3 linked regions of the Homo sapiens genome follow. The protein of the gene in region 3 interacts with the protein of the main gene of each other region in a biochemical or structural test. Each region holds a gene or a part of one and is shown on either strand. Other genes may lie near its edges.

What was found. Proteins that work in one complex are often made in the same cells at the same time.
Region 1: of the proteins of RANGAP1 (region 3) and MUL1, one has a biochemical effect on the other in vitro, tested with the Homo sapiens proteins (one study listed by BioGRID).
Region 2: of the proteins of RANGAP1 (region 3) and USPL1, one has a biochemical effect on the other in vitro, tested with the Homo sapiens proteins (2 studies listed by BioGRID).

What each region holds. Positions count from the first base shown.
Region 1 is NC_000001.11:20,505,152-20,511,990, forward strand, and holds the start of MUL1 (mitochondrial ubiquitin ligase activator of NFKB 1), read right to left. Parts: upstream 3,001-6,839; 5' UTR 2,874-3,000; coding exon 2,754-2,873; exon of another isoform or gene 2,376-2,753; coding exon of another isoform or gene 2,373-2,375; intron 1-2,372. UniProt on the Homo sapiens protein: Exhibits weak E3 ubiquitin-protein ligase activity. E3 ubiquitin ligases accept ubiquitin from an E2 ubiquitin-conjugating enzyme in the form of a thioester and then directly transfer the ubiquitin to targeted substrates.
Region 2 is NC_000013.11:30,613,562-30,620,919, reverse strand, and holds the start of USPL1 (SUMO-specific isopeptidase USPL1), read right to left. Parts: upstream 3,001-7,358; 5' UTR 2,864-3,000; exon of another isoform or gene 1,180-2,863; intron 1-1,179. UniProt on the Homo sapiens protein: SUMO-specific isopeptidase involved in protein desumoylation. Specifically binds SUMO proteins with a higher affinity for SUMO2 and SUMO3 which it cleaves more efficiently. Also able to process full-length SUMO proteins to their mature forms.
Region 3 is NC_000022.11:41,276,128-41,283,224, forward strand, and holds part of RANGAP1 (ran GTPase-activating protein 1), read right to left. Parts: exon of another isoform or gene 6,660-7,097; intron 5,517-6,659; exon of another isoform or gene 5,415-5,516; coding exon of another isoform or gene 5,330-5,414; intron 5,086-5,329; exon of another isoform or gene 4,956-5,085; coding exon of another isoform or gene 4,918-4,955; coding exon 4,806-4,917; intron 1,891-4,805; exon of another isoform or gene 1,769-1,890; coding exon of another isoform or gene 1,756-1,768; intron 1-1,755. UniProt on the Homo sapiens protein: GTPase activator for RAN. Converts cytoplasmic GTP-bound RAN to GDP-bound RAN, which is essential for RAN-mediated nuclear import and export. Mediates dissociation of cargo from nuclear export complexes containing XPO1, RAN and RANBP2 after nuclear export.

The DNA.
Region 1 (6,839 bases), on a different chromosome or scaffold from region 3:
TGAACTTCAAGGTGTGAAAGAATCCAGCCCGGGGGCTGGCACATAGGAGGCACGCAATAAATTTGCATTCTCCTCACTATGAGAGATACACAGGATAGGACACAAGCCCCTCTCTGGAAGTTTTGTCATCTGATCAAGAAAATAGAATCTAGGACAGGCATGGTAGCTCACACCTGTAATCCCAGCACTTTGGGAGTCCAAAGTGGGATAGCTGCTTGAGGCCAGCAGTGCAAAACTAGCATGAGCAACATGCAAGACCCCATCTCTATGAAAAATAAAAAATTAGCTGGAGGTGGTGGTGTGCACCTGTAGTCCTAGCTACTTAGGAGGCTGAGGCAGGAGACTGGCATGGGCCTGGGAGCTCGAGGCTGCAATGAGCTATGTTTGTGCCACTGCACTCCAGCCTGGGCAACAGAGTAAGACCATGTCTCAAAAAAAAAAAAAAAAAAAAAAAAGAAGAGGAAAAAGAAAAAAAGAAAGAAGAAAGAAATGAAGGACAGGAAGGAAGGCCAAAGAGAAAGAAAAGGAAGGAAGGGAGGGAGAAAGAGAGGAAGGAAATAGAAAATAGAATCTAAAATATTAACAGTCCCAACTTTTTTTCCAGGAAGGGGCTATTTCATCCTCATTTAGGAACTGTTTGGCAAAGGTTTTAAGGTCACCCAAAGATGAGACCTAAAGAGTTCACTGCTTCAAAGAAGCCCTCCTCCAGCCAACTTGAGGCCAAAGTGGTTTGGAGTCAGAAAGTGAAGTATCAGATACACAGAGCTAATCACTTCAGGATTAACTTGATTATTTAATCAGGAGAAATACAGGGCAGCTGGAATCTCACTATAACGCCACTGCACAGCAAATCCAATTGCCTCATAACTTGGTTCTTTCCAGATTCCAAAACTCCCTTCATGGCAGGGACTGGAGTTCACACATTGGTTTCTTTTTTTTCTGAGATGGAGTCCTGCTCTTGTCACCCAGGCTGGAGTAGCCTGGCCCACACATTAGTTTCTAAACCCTTACTGAAAACAATCTGATAATTAAGTTAGTCAGGTTTAGGAATCCATCTTTCATATAAACATCAAATTAGGTTAGGCCCTTAGCTCTTGTATTGTGAAACTTCAGCCAAAAAGAACCCACAAACATTTACTGAGCATCTACCACTTGCCAAGTACTGTGTTAGAAGCTAGAGGAAAGAGAATGGATGAATAAGACCCTGTCTCTGACCTAAAGAGGTCCATCTCTCTGGACCAGTCAGATAGTCACAATAAAGCAATGTCAATCAGATTAAAATCCTACCCTTGGAATCAAAAGACCTAAATTTAAGTTTCAAGCTGACTAGCTGTATGGCCTTTCCTCCAAATCTCAATTTTCTGATTTGCAATGTGGTGGTAACTGTCATTTTATTTACTTCAAAAAATTATTGTGGGCCAGGCGCAGTGGCTCACGCCTGTAATCCCAGCACTTTGGGAGGCTGAGACAGAGGGATCACCTGAAGTCAGGAGTTGGAGACCAGCCTGGCCAACATGGCAAAACCCCATCTCTACTAAAAATACAAAAATTAGCCAGGCGTGGTGGCAGGTACCTGTAATCCCAGCTACTCCGGAGGCTGAGGCAGGAAAATCACTTGAACGCGGGAGGCAGAGGTTGCAGTGAGCCAAGATCGTGCCATTGCACTCCAGCCTGGGCAACAGAGCGAGACTCCGTCTCAAAAAAAAAAAGAAAAAGAAAAAGAAAAGAAAAGGAGAGGAAAGAAAGGAAAAAAAATTATTGTTAAGAAAAAAATAAAATCAAGATGAAAATGTGGCTGGGCGCAGTGGCTCACGCCTTTACATCCCAACGCTTCGGAGAGCCGAGGCGGGGAGATCACCCGACGTCAGGAGCTGGAGACCAGCCTGGCCAACATGGTGAAACCCTGTGTCTACTAAAATACAAAAAAGTTAGCTGGGCGTGGTAATCCCAGCTACTCGGGAGGCTGAAGCAGGAGAATCACTTGAACCCGGGAGGCAGGGGCTGCAGTGAGCCCAGATCCCGCCACTGCACTCCAGCCTGGGCGACACAGCAAGACTCCATCTCGAAAAAATAAAAAATAAAAATAAATGCAAATGTGTTGTGTAAACCGTAAAGCACAGTTCAGAAAAAAGCGCCATTTATAAAAATAGTTGTAATATAAAAAGGAAGCGTCTGTAAAGCAAGGAGTGGAGTGGTTCAGTAAATGGATGTCTGCACTTGCTGTTCCTTCCATCTCCCGCTAGATATCTGCATGACTCCCCTCATCTCCTCCTAGGCTCTGCTCAAATGTCACCTTATTTAAGATAGGAGATCCCCCTTTCTCCAGCATTCCATGTCCTCTCTCCCCTACCTTACTCTAAAGCATTGCTCACCATCTGTTACACCGCCTGATTTACATGTTTGCTGTCTAGTCGTACTAAAATGGTATCTCCACGAGGGGATGGACTTTCATCTGTTCGACTCACTGCCTGGAGCATCGCAGGTGTTCAATAAATATTTTTCGAGTAAAGTAATGAAGTCAAGATTCATTCTGAGTCATAAGAGGGACTTGGGAGAAAAGGAGCGGAGCAGCCGTTATCCCGAGCCCGAATCCTGCCCCTCGCTCCTCCATCTACTGGCTGGATGACACCCTTCAGAGGCTGTTTCCTTTTTTGGACAGTTTCCGACGGTGGGGCGGCCAAGGTGAATCATGGGCTCCCCAGCACCTGGGACAGAGATGACCCGGCTGAGGCCAGGCCGGCTCCAGCACTGACCTTGAGCTCTTGGGAGACCCGGGCCTTCTGCCGGTACACGGAGTACAGGGCGGCGGTGACCACAGAGGTGGTGCCCAGGAGGATGAACTGGCACAGCGAGGGCCGCCCTCCGCTCTCCATGACGGCGGCGAGCCCCGGTGGCCGACTGTGGCGCCAAGGATAGGCCTGGTGACCCCCGACTCTCCACCTCCTTCCGACCAGGACCGCACCCCCCCGGCCTAACCTGACCGGAAACTCGAAATCAGTCGCCCAGCGATGACGCACGACGCCGGAACCGGAAGCGGGGCAAGGGGTTGTAGAGGGAACCGGAAGGTGGGGTTGCCCGGGTGACAATCAAGCTGCTGCGGCCTCCAGGGAGGTCCTGTCTCCCCAGCCGGGTGTCGGAGAGCGATTGGGGAGCTGAGCGACCACCCACCGCTCCATGGCCGTCCCCTTCGAAACACGGCGCACTGGCCATGACTGACTCGCCCATCGCCCTGGTTTCCGTCCCTCTGGTTTCCTGGGGTTACTGGGCTGTTTGATGGGTTATTCCATGTCTTCGCCATTAGATTGGCAGGAAATAAAATAATTGTGTATTAAACTCTTATGAGTAATATACGTTTAAGTTTCAGAGCAAACTCTCAAGACTTGGAATTTATTCTGGCCACTTTACAGATGAGAAAAGTGAGGCCATAGAGGTTAGGGAATGATGTGCTCGAAGTCTAGTGAGTGCTAGAGAGGAATTCACCCAACTCCAAAGCCCTCAACTCTACCCCAGGAGGGCAGATTATATCACCAAAGTAGCCCCTTAATCTGCCATCACCACATAGAACAACATATTTATTAAATAATAATTACGGCTACGCTTAGTGCCTATTATGTGTCAGGTTCGAGGCGGGGGAGGTTTTGCAGGCACCATCCCACTGAACCTTCACAACACAGCTATAATGCAGATTACCGATAAAGAAACTGAGGCTCAGGTAAGTAACTTGCTCAAGGTTATACAGCTAAAAGCAATAGGTATGGCCATAAAACCCAGGGGATCCTTCTCAGAGACTGTTCCCTGATCTCTGTAATGCATCTCCTTTCTAAAATAATCGGAGATAACCCAAATCTTTCTTCTAAACATCAGCATTCATTGAGCTATCTCCTACAGGTTATGCTTTAATTTTTTTATTTGTTTGAGACAGGGTCTTGCTCTGTCGCCCAGGCTGGAGTGCAGTGGTGCAATCATAGCTCCCTGCAGCCTCCCACCCCGCAATCCTCCCACCTCAGCCTCCCCAGTAGTTAGGACTAAAGATGCATGCCACCCCCGGCTAATTTTTTAAAAAATTTTTTGTAGAGTCAAGGTCTCACTATGTTGGCCATGCTGGTCTGGAACTCCTGGGCTCAAGTGATCCTCCTGACTTGCCTTCCCAAAGTGCTGGGATTACAGGCGTGAGTCACCACACCAAGCCTAAATTCTTGTATTTTCATGTTTACATGTATAAGTATTTATGTAGGGAGAATTTCTAGAGGTAGAATTGCTAGGTCAATGGGTGTTGGCACCATTAATCTTGATCAACATTGTCTAATTTTTCTCCATAATGTCCAATTTTACATTTATGAGCAATATGTGGGAATTTCTTTTCTTTTTTTCTGGAGACAGAGTCTCGCTCTGTAGCCCAGGCTGGAGTGCAGTGGCGTGATCTCGGCTCAGTGCAACTTCCGCCTCCCAAGTTAAGTGATTCTCGTGCCTCAGCCTCCCAAGTAGCTGGGACTACAGGCGTGCACCACCACGCCTAGCTAATTTTTGTATTTTTGGTAGAGACAAGGTTTCACCATATTGGCCAGACTGGTCTTGAACTCCTGACCTCAAGTGATTCGCCCGCCTTGGCCTCCCAAAGTATTGGGATTACAGGAGTAAGCCACTGCGCCTGGCCGGGAATCTCTTTTCACCCACACTTTTGCTAACAAACTTTTTGACAAGTTCTATTAAAAATTTAAGGTTAGACCTCATTTTAAGTTTGTGTGTGTGTGTGTTTACCAAATTCATGATCATCCCTTGGGTTGAAAATCATCAAAGATATCTCACAGTGTTAACAATCTAATGATTCTAGCCCTATTCTTATAGAAAGTAATTCTTATTTGACCCCAATTGTATTTAAGGAATGGAGTTAAAAACTGTTATATATAACAGGCTGATTTAATAAAGAAATTTTACTTTTGTGGAGCAGTCTACAGTTTTTAGATACATCATCTGTAGTTTTTAGACACATCTTACCTAGTGGCCTGATTCAATGTATGTAAAACGTGTCCCTCCAGGCCCAACATTGTTTTTAATAACAAAATAATGAAAGTAAACTAAATGTTATCAATAGTCAGTTGGTTGAGTAAATTTTTTAAATATGTGTATGTGTGCATAGTCAGGTGAAACAGCAAACTGCAAAACTAAAGAGGAACCCCGTTTATTTTTAAAAGGAGAGAGAAGAGTATACTATATATATTGCATGTCTCCAGAAGGATTCACAAAAAGCTGATAATAATTGGTTCTTTCCATAGAAGGGAATGGGGTGGCTAGAGAACAGAGAAGGTGACTTTTCACTCTGTTGTATCTTTTGAGTGTGAATGTACAGCATATTTTGAATTAATAAAACTAGAATTTAAAAAAAAAATGGCCAGGCGAGGTGGCTCACGCCTGTAATCCCAGCACTGTAGGAGGCCGAAGCAGGTGGATCACCTGAGGTCAGGAGTTCGAGACCAGCCTGGCCAACATGGTGGAATCCCGTCTCTACTAAAAATACAAAAAATTAGCTGGGCATGGCCAAGCGCTGTGGCTCACGCCTGTAATCCCAGCACTTTGGGAGGCGGAGGCGGGCAGATTGCCTGAAGTCGGGAGGTCGGGAGTTCGAGACCAGTCTGACCAACATAGACAAACCCCGTCTCTACTAAAAATACAAAATTAGCCAGGCTTGGTGGCACATGCCTATAATCCGAGCTACTTGGGAGGCTGAGGCAGGAGAATCACTTGAACCCAGGAGGCGCAGGTTGCAGTGAGCTGAGATAGCGCCATTGCACTCCAGCCTGGGCAACAGAGTGAGACTCCATCTCAAAAAAAAAAAAAAAAAAAAAAAGAGCATGCTATTTACTTCACAACCAACAATTACAGAGAGCCTCCTACATCCAAGGTTCTAGGCTGGGCATTAGGAGATACACCTTATATAGCCAGCCTCTTCCCTCTGACTGGTTAGGGTCTTGTGGGGAGGTAGACATGGACAGTTACAGATTGCCCCAGGTCCAGTGAAATTAGGACAACCAAGTGCCACAGTAGGGAGATGCTGTTTATTTCCACCAGGGAAGGAATTTGAGTTCTGTTAACAGAATGGAGGGTGGAGTGGCTGGGATGGAAGTAGGAAAGGCCTTCCATGAAGAGGGGGGAAGAAACAGCAAAGGTACAAAGCTACCAAGAGTTGGCCCAGTATAGCTAGAGCCCAGGATGTGCGACAGAGAGCAAGGAGCAAGTAATTGAAAAGGAGGGTTGAGGCCAGATCCTGTAGGTCCCTAAATGCCAAACCAAAACTTTAAACTTCATCATTTTGGGGATGGTATCCATTCCAGTAAAGCTTTTTGAGGATCAGCAAGGGTGCAACCTAACCTGTTTTTTAAAAAATATATATAATCAAAATTCTTGTATCCTTAGGTTACAGCAAGGAAGAGAACAAAAACGGGTCCTTAAAATAAAACAGGCAGAGTGCTGCACTGCAATAAGTTAGGGGTCCTTGCTTACAGGTTCTGACTATTTTAGGCCTCCTTGTTTTATTCTCTGGGCCCTTTTATGAGTTCCCTGGGAGCTCATTAAAGCCATCACTCTTAAATGACACAGTTTGGTTTTAAATAACCCTTCCATTTTTTTTGCCAAAGGCTGAAATCCTTCATTAGCTATGCTGAGCACAGTCCTACTGGGACAGTCTGAAATTTACATCATGTGGACCTTGTTAGGAGCAATGAGAGATGGGCAATTTCAGCTGCAGCCAGATGTCCCTAGGGAACCATTCCCAGCCTGGAAGGCTGTCCTCACTGAATCACAAGTTAAAGATGAGCCTCTGACTTCAAGAAAGGGAGGTAAAT
Region 2 (7,358 bases), on a different chromosome or scaffold from region 3:
TGATACCTATATTTATAAACCCAGCAAATTTGTGAACAGAGGGTAGTGACTGGCAACAGGACCGGTTTTCATAGCAGACTCATTTGTCAACAAATTAAATAAAACTTGTAGTAGAGGCAGCTACTATTTAAAGCAAACTATATTGACCAGAATTTGAAAGCCTAACTTTTTAGAGTCTATGTACAATTTGAAACAAATATGCCAGCATTATACTGAGAAAAACCCCAGATCCATTGTGCCACTATTTGACAGGAACAAAAGAACCAGTGAACCATATATTCCATACATTCCTATTGTTTTCAACTACCAACATTAATACTTCACCAGTTGGGAAAAATACTACTTATTAAAAGCTGCTAACAAATTATTATTTGTAAATGATCTAATTTACACCACATTTAACTTATTTTGTTATCTGAACAAAAATATAAACACTGTCCTAGTACAAATTACATATGTGGCAAGCTTGTTTTGAGTGCAGTCCTATGGTGCAGAACCACATTTAACAGAGTAAAAATTACAAGAGACCGGAGCTCAGTGTAAGCAAAAAATAATTAAGAGCATTTTAATTGTGGGTTCACAATGATAGGAAAATCAAATACAGGAGACCTTTAGGGCAGAGGAGAATTACCACTTAGCAGAAATGTTGTAAAATAATTCTAGGCATAAGTCTTTCCCAAATCCAAGAATCCATGATTCTATGACACCCATCTCCTGGGAATCGATGGCTCACAATTCACTTTAAAATCTAATTACGCTATTCTGGTTCGGCTATATAAACTTCACAAACCTTTCAAGCCAAGGAATAATTTCAAAAATAAAACTGCTTTTTAAAGAAAGTATCGGCGAATCTTAATTTCCTATTCCTGAAGAAATAACCATAAGACAGAAATTTCTCAACTGCAGCACTACAAATATCTTTGACCAAATAATTGTTTGTGAAGGCTGTTCTATGCACTGACGATGTTTAGCAGCGTCACTGACCTTTACCCTCTAGATCCAACAGCCAAAAGTTTCCTGACTTGCCAAATGTCCCCTGGTAAGCAAAATCACCCCTTCTGGTGAGAACTACTGATGCTAACTTTTTTCTTTCTTTTTAGGCACAGACAACTTATTACCTTTGGCTGGTTCTATTTATAATCTACTTACAAAAGAGAACTATGTAGGAGTCAAACTTACGCTTTTCAGGCTTTGTACCTGCAGATGTTGGTCCAGACACTTACTTGTAAAATTAGTTTCTTCTAAGAATTAAATGAGATAAAGCATGTAAAAAGTTTAGCACCTGACAAATTAAAGTTACTATTTGGTGCTAATTTTATACTTCATTCTGCGTAGAGAAGCAGTACACGTCGTATCATTCTGCGGTACTCTCAAATGGGAAACTAGTAGGCTATGTACCTTGAATAAACTGTTTTTGATGAAAATTTCCATCTACCTGAGGGAACCTAGAAAACTTTTTCAAATCAAACGGTTTTCTCTTTGTCTCTCTCAATTATAAAATATAAAGAGTCTCCAAATCTGCTCTCCTGATTCCATCACCCAACATTTCAGCGGGAAAAACCAGATAGGTTGGTGGTTGAAATCCCGAATATATAGAATCCCCCAAAAGAAAATTCATTTAATACCAGAGGTTTATTTGTCCATATGAGGGACATAAAAAAAATACCAGAGGTGGGCTCCCCAGTTCTTCTTCCAAATACAATTCACTTTGACTTACATACAAAATCCCGGGGGGGATTTTACAACTTAATTTGACCCTAAGTAACTGCTCTTCCTCCCTTCAAAAACAATCTGCTCCTCCTTCCCATATCTCACTTAAATGTGGGCGTCTCCATCCTTCCAAACACACAGACTAGAAAGTCTTGAGTTGTTCCCTATTCTTTATTTCCCTCTTCGCACAGTAAGTCACCAAATTCTGTGGACAGTTCTTTGGAAAGGTCTCAAATCTCTACCTCTTTCCCTTCCATATCACTGTCAAAATGATGCCTCTACAAGTCTGAGCCTGTCAATGCTTAGTTTAAAATTCTCTATTTACTCTAGCCTGATTACAGCAAACTCCGTCCAAACAGCCCAATATAACCTAAAGGTAGTATTATGACCTAAAGCTCATTGTACTGTGAAACCAACCTAGCTTTCCAGTTCTGTCTTCCTCAACTCTACTTCACCCCCAGCATCTTTCTTCTAACATCCCCTTTTCATACTTCTGTGAACCACTTATACTCCAGAAGCCTTAATGTGAATTATTAGCCCAGCATGAACCCAGTTAGATAGCACAATGAACGTGTCAAGGTGGCCCTGGGAATCGCAAAAAGTATTCAATTAAACTTAATTCACACTCCTGTGTGCAAAATGGAGAAACCCAGGGAAACAGCTGTTCGAAGAGGGGGCCTTAAACCCACCCATTTGAGCTCGCCCTCCGAGAGCGAGTAGGCTCGGCACGTGAACTGTCAAAAGCGAGGCCACAACCGACCTGGAAGCCGAGGAACAGGGTCAGCTTTCTGCACCCAGCCCTGTCAGGTACCAAACCCAACTGTCTTGAATCAGAGACGAACAGGACCAAAGGAGGTGAGTTTCAACACCCAAACTAAGAAGCCGAAGGAGGCGCAGGGTCCGTTAACCCTGCCCATCTCCACGCTCCTTGGAAAACGAAAACAAACTCTGGTTTCTCTTCAGCGTTCACCTCTCTGCGCCCAAACGGATCTGTAAGTCCAACTCTATACCTTAATCATCAACCTTTCCCACTTGAACCCCGTCCCAGCCCAGCCCATCCTTTCAGCGCGCCGACTACCCCATAGGTCATCCCAGCTCTGTCTCTTTTCCCAATTTCGAGAGCGGAAAGAAACCCCTCCCTCTTCTCCCTTACCTGCCGCGGGCACTCCCCTTCTTGGTACCGGGTCGATCGGAACTCCTGTTCCAGCTTGATCTCCACCCTAGTTGCAACGTTCAACCCACGTTCCCCTCGGACTGCTCCTCCCCCACTCGCGTCTCCACTAGGAAGGCGGCTTCCGGCTTGAGTCCGCGGCAAAAGAGTCCTCCTTCCTGCTGCACGCTGGGCCTGAAAGGACGGTGGCGTGGCGGGGAAGGTGAAGACGTGAGCACTTCCGGTCGCCCTCCGCAGAGGCGTGGCTGTCCGCCCTGTGGCCGCAGACGCAGTTGCGACTGCGGCGACGAGGAGGGGCGGGGCCGGTGGCTGCTGAGCCCGCCATGTGTGAGTGGCTGGGTTTGGGGAGGCGACGTTTCTGGAAGCTGCTGGAAAGCGCCCGAGTGGCGGAGGTGGCGCCAGCGGCCAGGGGGTGGGGCGTGATTAAAACTAGTGCGCGGCTTTCTGCGGAGGGATTACGCTGACGAAAGAGACCTGCTTGCGCGTCGCTGTTCCGTGGTCCGCGCGAGCGTGGTCGGGAGCCGCTGGTTCCTGGGGTGACCCGCGGAGGTGGGAGAGGGAAGGGCTTCCGAAGCCGGCGGGGGTGCCATGGACCCTCTCCGCCGGCGCGGCCTTCACAGCTGGGCCGCGCCGGGCATCCGTAGTCCGCTCTCCCAAAGCCTCGGTGGAGCTGAAGCTGCCACAGAGTGCATGTTCACAAAGGGTCATCACACACGGAGCTGCCCCTCCCTGTCTCCCTAGAGCCCATCTTCGAGGCCAGGGGCTTTTCTACCAGGATTCTGGGGTGTTTCTCCTCCTTTCCTCCCTCCCAGATCTTCTCACGGTAAGGGGAGCAGCGAAAGCGCAGGGACTTTGCATTCCACGACCCGTTCTGACTAGTCAACAGCCGATCTGTCCCTGCTGCTCTAATTCCAGCTGCCCTGCCTTGTTTTAACTTCAGAGAAAGGGGGAGTTCTCATTTGATAAGTTTAAGCCTTTGCTTTCGTAGGAAGGTCATGTGGCTTAAGGGACATCGTGACCGCGTATGCTATTTCTGCCTGTGCATTCTAAATCTTGGGGGCAGCATATTCCAGAAGTCCTTTTGGTCGATTGGTTCTGTGTCCTAGGATAACAATTTGTAGTTTCTGACCATTTCTTTACAGAAAAACCACAATTGGTATTTTGGACTGCGGGGTTTTTTAGTGGTCTCAAACTAAATGATTATATTCTGGAATAATGCTGACAATTTGGATAGGGTGGTGTGGAGGAAACAAGTCTCGTGTAGAAGAAATTATTTAGTAAAAAGGATTTTAGTTTTTGGTACTTCTGAATGCAAATGGCCAAGGAATCCAGCAGTTTGTTGGGGTTTCTCCAGACAAAAATAGGCTGGTTAGTTTGTTTACCTTTTTCTGTTGCTTTACTAGATTGTTAATGTATTTGTATATTTAAGATCTAGCTAGTTAGGTTTTTCTTTTTTATGAATTGTGATTAAAATTGGAGAAAGTAGTACTTCCTCCTGAAATAGACAAAACTCAGAGGGTTGTTTTCTTGTTCACCACTGCTACTTCCATTTTTAGAATGGAATACACTATTTGTAAAAAACAAACTTGCTGAGTATTAACTCATAAATTGAACAAAACAATTGGTTCAGTTAAAATGTAGCTAAAATTGTAAGACTGCAAAACAACATCACCAAACTGAATTGTATTTTTTAAAACGTTGTCTGCAAAGTTGAATTTTAGTCTTTCAGTGTAAATTTGGTATTTTTTCAGAAGAAAAATTAGTAACAGAAACAAAATGGAGGCGGGGCTTGAGTTGTAAAGAGAAAGGAAGGGATTTTAGTGTGTTCTGTGTTTTCGCTCTAGAGCTTTTTCCTCTTGTAAAAGGTAGTACAAGACTTATAAAGGGAAGAACTTTGGTACAGGAGATCAGCAGAGATTGACTAGAAAACCCCTTTCGTTTATATTATAGAGTAACGGTCCCAAGTTGAGAATACTGTATACATTTCTGGTTATTCCTATATATTTGAAATGCTTTTTTCTACATATCCTGGTCCCAGAGAGAGTGCAGTACCTTCCAGTGGGATTAAAGCTAATTGCGTCCATCGCTTGTCAGCAGTGTGGGACAGAAATTTTATTGACCTATTTCCAGTTATAAACTCACATGATTTAAAGGGAGGAAGCTTTTATTAAATTAATAACTAACGAACAGCTGCAGTAGTTCAGTGCTTCTGTATGATTAGGATTTTCTCTTTTTTTCTCTCATTTTAGCCACTCACGATGTCAGCTCGTGCACCTTCTACTAAGTTAGATTCCTTAACCACAATACAAGTCTTTGGCCCAAACCTGGGATATAAAAGCTACTTGCTATGATTTCTTTTTTAGTCTCATAAAAAAAAAATGAGAGTTGAAGTGACTGACTGCTTTCTAGAAGCACTCTATGAGTACAGTCTGTAATCCCACATCTCAATCTAACATTCAGAAAGCGGTGAAAACCAAAAACTTCTTAAGCTTGGCAACAAAATTCATTTGGTAGCAAAATATGACCTGAACTATTGAGAAGCTGTATATAGTCTTTATCCCATGTGTTTTGCTGAAACTATATTAATATGTTTGATTATGGGGTGCTGCCCTTGGCCCCTGGTATGTGTTATATAATGGTTTATATACCCTGTAACACTTAAAAATTGTATGAAATTCTTATTTCTAAAACACATCCAACCCTTGGGTTTTAGTTAAGGAATTGTAAACCTGTATTCATATTTTTGGCAACACGCTTGTGCTATGCATGTGTATATTTAAAAAAGTAACTTAAGACATTTTAGTTATTTCAGTAAATTCAGATGTGTTAGGATAGAAAAAAATACGTGTATCATATTGTGTGTCTGTCATATCATGCATCTATCATATTGTATACATGCAATGATAGAGGTATGCACAGCATATTTTTAAGTGTAGCCGTATAGTGATCCAAACAAGAAATTAGTAGTTTCAGGGCTTAAGGTTAATTTATACATTAGACTCTAAAATTTAGATAAAACATGACAACTCGGCCGGGCGTGGTGGCTCACACCTGTAATCCCAGCACTTTGGGAGGCTGAGGTGGGTGGATCACGAGGTCAGGAGTTCAAGACCAGCCTGGCCAAGATGGTGAAACCCCGTCTCTACTAAAAAAAAAAAAAAAAAATACAAAAATTAACCGGGCGCGGTGGGAGGCGCCTGTAAACCCAGCTACTCGGGAGGCTAAGGCAGGGAGAATTGCTTGAACCCCGGGGGTCAGAGATTGCAATGAGCTGAGATTACACCACTGCACTCCAGCCTGAGCGACAGAGCAAGACTCCATCTCAAAAAAACAAAAACAAAAACATGACAACTCGTAATGTAGCCCAAACTTACTTGGTTCTGTTTTGCCCCCAGAAAATGAGAAGATGGTGTGATAATAGTCTAAAGTTGATACTGGAATATCTGACATCTAATCCCATCTCTTCTGCTGTGTGACCTTACACAAGTCACTGAATTTTTAATAGTCTAAACTTGATATTGGAATATCTAGCATCTAATCCCATCTCTTCTGCTGTGTGACCTTATGCAAGTCACTGAATTTTTAAGGTCTCAGTTTACAGATCTATAAAATGAGAAGTTTGGAATAGATGGATCTCTTAAGGAGAGTTCCTTATAGTTTCAACATTCCATGTGCAGGTATTTGCTCTTAGAAGTACCACCTGCTTTAAAAAGTTTTTCCTACTAAGGGTGTAATCCCATTTCATCTCAAACTGCTGTCTTGCTGATCTAAACTTGTCATTTTGTTCATAGGTAACACATTCATTCACGTGGTTCAAAATTCAAAAGGTACAAAAGGATACTCAGTCATTTTCTGCCTAGGAAGCAACCAGTGCTACCAGTTTCTGGTATATTTTTCAGAAAAATTTTACACATGTAAGAACAAATAAATTACTATATATATTTTATTTTTCTTCCCTTTTTCTATGTAAATGGTACATACTATGCATAGTGATTATGTACCTTATTTGTTCACTTACCTTAAAAGTTGTTCTGTTATTATTTAAGGTATTTCCTTATTTTTATGGCTGCATAATCTTCCATTTTATAATGTACCATTATTTCATCTACCCTATCCTTTTGAACATTTAGGTGTTTTTTTTTTCCAGATCTTTATTAAAGAGCATTGTGCAATGAAGACCTTTCTACGTACATCATTCTCCACATATGTGAATATATTTGTGCCCTAGCCAATGGTACGGCTGGGTCCTGTCTACTTTGACTTATGTGTTCTCCATGCCAGTATTGTATAGTGGAGTCAACACCCTGTTGACTCTAAAGTAAGCATATGAGATAAATCACATCACCTGAATGGCTGTTTTTTCATGTGAGCCCTGAGAGCATGTATGTACATACATAATATGCATAAGTATGTATATATGAAGCAAGTAGATTATGTGTAGAGACTTTGTCCTAAACAAACAAACAAATAAATCTTT
Region 3 (7,097 bases):
GATCACTCTTTAAAAACATATGTATTCACACACAAACACACATGCACACATGTGCATAAAACAAGGTCTAGAAACATAGAAACCAAATGCTATAGCAGTTCTCTCTAGCTGGTAGGATAATGGGTGATTGTGTGTTTTTAACTATTTGAAGTAAAATGTTCTCAATATATCAGGTTATATAGCAGCTTTTAAAAGATCTATAATATAATCCCAATTAAAAACAAAATGGGCTGGGAGTAGTGGCTCACACCTGTAATCCCAGCACTTTGGGAGGCTGAGGCCTGAGGATCACCTGAGGTCAAGAGTTTGAGACCAGCCTGTCCAATATGATGAAACCCTGTCTCTAACTAAAAATACAAAAATTAGCCGGGTGTGGTGGTGGATGCCTGTAATCCCAGCTATTAGGGAGGCTGAGACAGGAGAATTGCTTGAACCTGGGAGGCAGAGGTTGCAGTGAGCCGAGATCGTGGCATTGCACTAATCCCTGGGCAACAAGAGCGAAACTCCGTTTCAAAAAACAAACAAAACAAAATGAACTCAGCTATGTTCAGGAAAAAAAAAAAGACTAGGCTGGGCGCGGTGGCTCACGCCTGTAATCCCAGCACTTTGGGAGGCCAAGGCGGGCGGATCGTGAGGTCAGGAGTTCAGGAGTTCAAGAACAGCCTGGCCAACATGGTAAACCCCGTCTCTACTAAAAATACAAAAATTAGTTGGGCATGGTAGCGCATGCCTGTAATCCCAGCTGCTCGGAAGGCTGAGGCATAATTGCTTGAACTGGGACCCAGGAGGCGGAGGTAGCAGTGAGCGAGATCTTGCCACTGCACTCCAGCCTGGGCTACAGAGCGAGACTGTTTCTCAGAAAAAAAAAAAAAAAGACTGTGTTAGAAATAAAATGCCCTGAAAGTAATAGTAGTTATATCCCTGGGGTTATATGAAAGTGAGGATTTTTTTTTTTTTTTTTTTTTTTTGAGACGGAGTCTCGCTCTGTTGCCCAGGCTGGAGTGCAGTGGCGGGATCTCGGCTCACTGCAAGCTCCGCCTCCCGGGTTCACGCCATTCTCCTGCCTCAGCCTCCCAAGTAGCTGGGACTACAGGCGCCCGCCACTACGCCCGGCTAATTTTTTGTAGTTTTTAGTAGAGACGGGGTTTCACCGTTTTAGCCAGGATGGTCTCGATCTCCTGACCTCGTGATCCGCCCGCCTCGGCCTCCCAAACTGCTGGGATTACAGGCGTGAGCCACCGCGCCCGGCCGAAAGTGAGGATATATTTTTTCCCTGTTCTTTGAATGTTTCTGTATTCTATAATAAACCTGCATTAATTGTATAATCTGAACAAAACCAAAACTTACATGAAACAAAAAGTTGAGTCTGGCTGGTACAGGATGGAGTAGGGTGACATGTGGGAGGGAAGAGATAGAGATGGGTATGGGAGATAAAGTTTGAACTTGACCTTCTGGTCAAGAAGGGTCTTGAGAAAGGACTTATAACCTAGCAGGGGCTCCCTAAGAAGTTGTCCAAGGTGGGTCCAAGTTTCCCTGGTTGGGCCAGAACCCAAGGATGGCTCACTGATGCGGGTACCTTCACTTCCAGATGCCAGGGGATTCAGGGTTGGTCAGTGCCAGCCAAGCCTTGGCAAGGGATGAAAAGACTTCCTGGGTGCTCTTAAAGTAAAAGTGAGACCTCTCCCTGCCTTACTTCCCAGAGCCTTTTCACTTGTTTTCATAGAGTATATTCACATTTTGCCTTCACTTAGTTACCTGGGTATATCATTCCTATTCCAGATTTGCTGCTTCTTAGGAGCTGGGTAAGCTGGGCACCCCTGGGGACTTACAAAATGGGAGACACCACATTCAGCCTGTGCTGGGAGAGTAAAGAAGTTAACTGGATGGATTTCAGAGCCAGCCAAACTTGAGTTTTTTTTTTTTTTTTTTGAGATAGTCTCGTTCTGTCACCGAGGCTGGAGTACAGTGGTGCCATCTCGGCTCACTGCAACCTCCGCCTCCCGGGTTCAAGCGATTCTCCTGCCTCAGCCTCCGGAGAGTAGCTGGGATTACAGGTGTCCACCACCACGCCCGGCTAATTTTTGTATTTGTAGTAAAGACAGGGTTTCTCCATGTTGGCCAGGCTGGTCTGGAATTCCTGACCTCAGGTGATCTGCCCACCTCGGCCTCCCAAAGTGCTGGGATTACAGGCGTGAGCCACCGCACCTGGCCCAAACTTGAGTTCTAATCCCAGCTCTACTCATTAAAGCTGTGCCCTTAGGCATGTCATACCACCTCCCTAAACCTCAGTTTTCCAATCTGCAAAATGGAAATGCAATCTATCTCAAAGGATTTTGTGAAGATAAACTGAGATACTATTTATCTGGCACTTAATACCCTTATCTGACACGGTGTTCAATAAATGGCATTTGCCATCAAATCTCTGTTTCCTAAACGGAGCTCAATGTCTAATTAGAAGCACAGGAATAGGGATTTCACTGAACCTCTGTGAAAATCCTAGCTCTGCTATTTATCAAATGTGTGACCTTGGTCAAGTTACTTAAAGTCTCCTAAATTCCTTTTTCTCATTTATAAAACAGCAACATTCCAATCTATCTCCCACAAGGGTGACGCAAGCATCAAAAGTGATAAACGAGGTCAAAGTGGGCGGATCACCTGAGGTCAAGAATTCAAAACCAGCCTGGCCAACATGGCAAAACCCCGTCTCTACTAAAAATACAAAAATAAGGGGCCGGGCACGGTGGCTCACGCCTGTAATCCCAACACTTTGGGAGGCCGAGGTGAGAGGATCATGAGGTCAGGAGATCGAGACCATCTTGGCTAACTAACACGGTGAAACCCCGTCTCTACTAAAAATACAAAAAAATTAGCCGGGCGTGGTGGCGGGCGCCTGTAGTCCCAGCTACTCAGGAGGATGAGGTGGGAGAATGACATGAACCCAGGAGGCGGAGCCTGCAGTGAGCCAACATCATGCCAGTGCACTCCAGCCTGGGTAACAGAGCGAGACTCCGTCTCAAAAAAAATAATAATAATAAAAATACAAACACAAAAATAGGCTGAAGGCCAGACACAGTGGCTCACGCCTGTTATCCCAGTACTTTGGGGGCTGAGGCGGGCGAATCACCTGAGGTCAGGAGTTCTAGACCAGCCTGTCCAACATGGTAAAACCCCATCCCTACTAAAATACAAAAAATTAGCGGAGCATGGTGGTGGGTGCTTATAGTCCTAGCTACTCAGGAGGCTGAGGCAGGAGAATGGCGTGAACCAGGGAGGCAGAGCTTACAGTGAGCCGAGATTGCACCACTGCACTCCAGCCTGGGTGACAGAGCACGACTCCATCTCAAAAAAAAAACAAAAAGAAAAGAAAATTAGCTGGGCATGGTTGTACACACCTGTAGTCCCAGCTACCCAGGAGGCTGAGGCATGAGAATTGCCTGAACCCAGGCAGAGGTTAAAGTGAGCTGAGATTGCACCACCACACTCCAGCCTGGGCAACAGAGCAAGACTATGTCTCAAAAAAAAAAATTAGCCAGGCGTGATGGTGTGAGCCTGCAGTCCCAGCTATTTGGGAGGCTGAGGCAGGAGAATCGCTTGAACCTGGGAGACAGAAGTTGCAATGAGCCAACATCGCACCACTACACTCCAGCCTGGGTGGCAGAGTGAGACTCATCTCAAAAAAAAAAAAAAAAGCCGGGCACAGTGGCTCACGCCTGTAATCCGAACACTTTGGGAGGCCAAGGTGGGCAGATCACCTGAGATGAGGAGTTCGAGAGCATCCTGACCAATATGGCAAAACCCTATCTCTACTAAAAATACAAAAATTAGCCGGGTGTGGTGGTGGGCGCCTGTAATCCCAGCTACTCAGGAGGCTGAGGCAGGAGAACTGCTCGAACCCGTGAGGCAGAGGTTTGCAGTGAGCTGAGATCGTGCCACTGCACTCTAGCCTGGGTGACAGAGACTCCATCTCAAAAAAAAAAAGTGATAAATGCACAGGGAGGAAGTCTATAAACGTTAGACCTTATGGAGATGTTAGGAACATGCATCAGCACGCTCCCAGCTACCCAAGGACTCAAGCAGCCTCCGACCTGGAGAGGAGAACAAGGCTGCCTACACAACATGACAACCAGGCATGTCCAGACCAGTTCCCCTGGTTGGGCCAGAATCCCAGGAGGCCTCACTTGATGCAGGTGCCTTCACTTGCAGGTGCCAGGTGATTCAGGGTTGGTCAGTGGCAGCCAAGCCTTGACAAGGGATGAAAAGACAGGGTCTGCTCTCTGGTTCCTAGTTTTCTGTGGTTGCAATACCTGTATACACACAGACAGCCATCCCTCTCCCAGGTACATCTGGTTGCATGAACCAGCATCTCCCAAGAGGGCCCAGGTTGTTTTAATGCAGCTCCACCAGAGCCTCAGCTCTGGGGAAAGCTGCAGCTATTCCCAGGCCTGCCTGGGATCATGGGGGTTAAGGGCAAGGGTGGGGACAACACCGGATATTAAGTCAGAGTCAGAGGCTGTATCTTGGGACTGGCACTAACTGTGGCCCCTCATTACCTATCATCCCCTCCTGAGAAAGAAAGGGCAGGGCACAAAGGGATGCCCAATACAAACATGGAAAGTGCAGGGGAGCTTGCTCCTGGGCAAATGATCTCTGAGCCTCATTGTTAGAATAGGCCCAATGATACCTCACAGAGCTGCTGGGACAAATAATGGAGACAATGTAGCAGAAAGAGCCTGACAACCAGTAAGAGTTCAGTACACTCCCTCTCCTCCCCTGGACACACCAGTGCACAACTTCCAGAAACTCACCATCTTCTGCAGTGTTGAGTTTGAGGCTCTTGCCTTTGAAACTCAGCTGTCCCCCGGCCACCTGAGTCTTGGCAAGTGTCTCTGCCAGCTTGGCAATGTCTTCCGAGGCCATGTTGACTAGGCTGGTGGGCTCCCCTGGAGATCTGCAGACTGAGGAGGCCAAAGTTGCAGTAAGAAAAAGGAGTCTCCTGGGGCCCCTGGTTGGGGGCAGGGTAGGACATCAGCCATCTCAGGAGTCTGACCCTACCTCCCCTGCTATGGAGACCCTAGAGATAAATCACTGGAAGAAAGGAAAACAGCATCAGAGAAGGAACAGTTCTAGAAGGTGCAGGAGGTAGTAAAAGAACAGAAAAATCATGTCTTAGCCTATAAGAAGCTACCATCTCATTACAAGTCCTCCTCTGCTAAACTGCCGCAGCTGGACACCCAGCAACACCATGTGAGCTGCCCATTTCCTGGGCCCCTTCAGTGAATGGCAGTCAAGTCCCAAACCAAAGGCTGCAGAGTCTGGCCCAAGCACACACCTGCTTGAGCATCTTGGCTGTTCTCTGTTTGAGGGTCCCATTCCTCAAACAGGACACAGATGGCTATGGGATCCAGATCATTCATCCCAGAGAATGCCCCACCACCCACGCTGGCATGACTCTGGGGTGGGGCACAGGGGTCAGCCCCACTGCACGTCTGGTTTCAACCGTGGCCGGGAGACTGGGCAGGCCACAATGGCCCCTCAGGGGTTTCTAGATCAGAGATCGCCACATCACAACAGCTACCATCATAATAGGACAGGGACAGGGCTGCTACCTATGAAGCCCTACTATACTCAAGTCTACCAGAAGATTTGGGTAGAAATGGGGTTGATAAGCCTCACTATTTATAAAATCAGGAGTGCTGGTAAAAGAAGTAAAGCTGGCCAGGTACAGTGGCTCACACCTGTAATCCCAGCACATTGGGAAGCTGTGATGGGAAGATCGCTTGAGCCCAGCAGCTCAAGACCAGTCTGGGCAACATGGCAAAATCCCATCTCTACTAAAAATAAATACAATTAGCAGGGTATGGTGGTGTGCACCAGTAATCCCAGCCACTGGGGAGGCTGAGGTGGGAGGATTGATTGAGCCCCGGAGACAGAGGCTACAGTGAGCCATGATCTCACCACTGCACTCTAGCCTGGGTGACAGAGTAAAACCCTGTCTCAAAAAAATAAAAATAAAAATAAAAATTAGCTGGGTGTGGTGGCACGTGCCTGTAGTCAGTCCCAGCTACTGGAGAGGCTGAGGCAGGAGGATCATTTGAGCCCAGGAGTTCAAAGCTGCAGTAAGCTATGACTGCCACTGCACTCCAGCCTGGGCAACAGCGGGAGGCTCTATCTCTAAAAGTAACTAAATAAATGAAAGAATTTTTTTTTTTTGAGACGGAGTCTCGCTCAGTCGCCCAGGCTGGAGCACAGTGGCGCCATCTGGGCTCACTGCAAGCTCCGCCTCCAAGGTTCATGTCATTCTCCTGCCTCAGCCTCCTGAGTAGCTGGGATTACAGGCACCCACCACCATGTCCAGCTAATTTTTTTGTATTTTTAGTAGAGACAGGGTTTCACCGTGTGTTAGCCAGGATGGTCTCGATCTCCTGACCTCGTGATCCACTCGCCTCAGCCTCCCAAAGTGCTGGGATTACACGCATGAGCCACCACGCTTGGCCAATAAATGAAAATTTTTAAAACAAGTAAAGCTTTGAGAACTCCTGCGCCTGCTCATGGTACTCCAGCTTTACTTGGAGTACATGTGAGATTAAATGTCTCAATGTGTACTGCCTATAAATTGAAGCCAGCTATATTAGACAGGAACGTGGAACATCACTACATACCTGAATAGTGTTTACTTTGTGGTATGAATAAACGTATCTGTGAGATGCTCCAAAAAAAGAAAAGAAACAGCAAGTAATCAGGAGAGACCAAGGAAGCAGATATGAGGGGCAGAACTAGGGGGTGCTATCCGAAAGGCCTCCTCCTACAACCTCCTCATTCTCAGATACAGTTGTGATACCCTGAATCCTCCCACCCCTAGGCTTCCTCTGGGTTCTAACTTATAACCCTGGTTTGTCTGCCTTTATCAATAAGCATGAATTATTATCCTGGGTAAGGTGTCCACTCATTCATTCAAAAACACATTGATTACTACTGTGTGCTGGATGTTGTTCCAGGTCAGCAGTATAGCAGTAAAGGAAGCATAAACCCTGACCTCTTGAAGCATATGTTCTAAATGACACATTTAGTATGTGATTTAAAAAAAAAAGGGGGGGGTT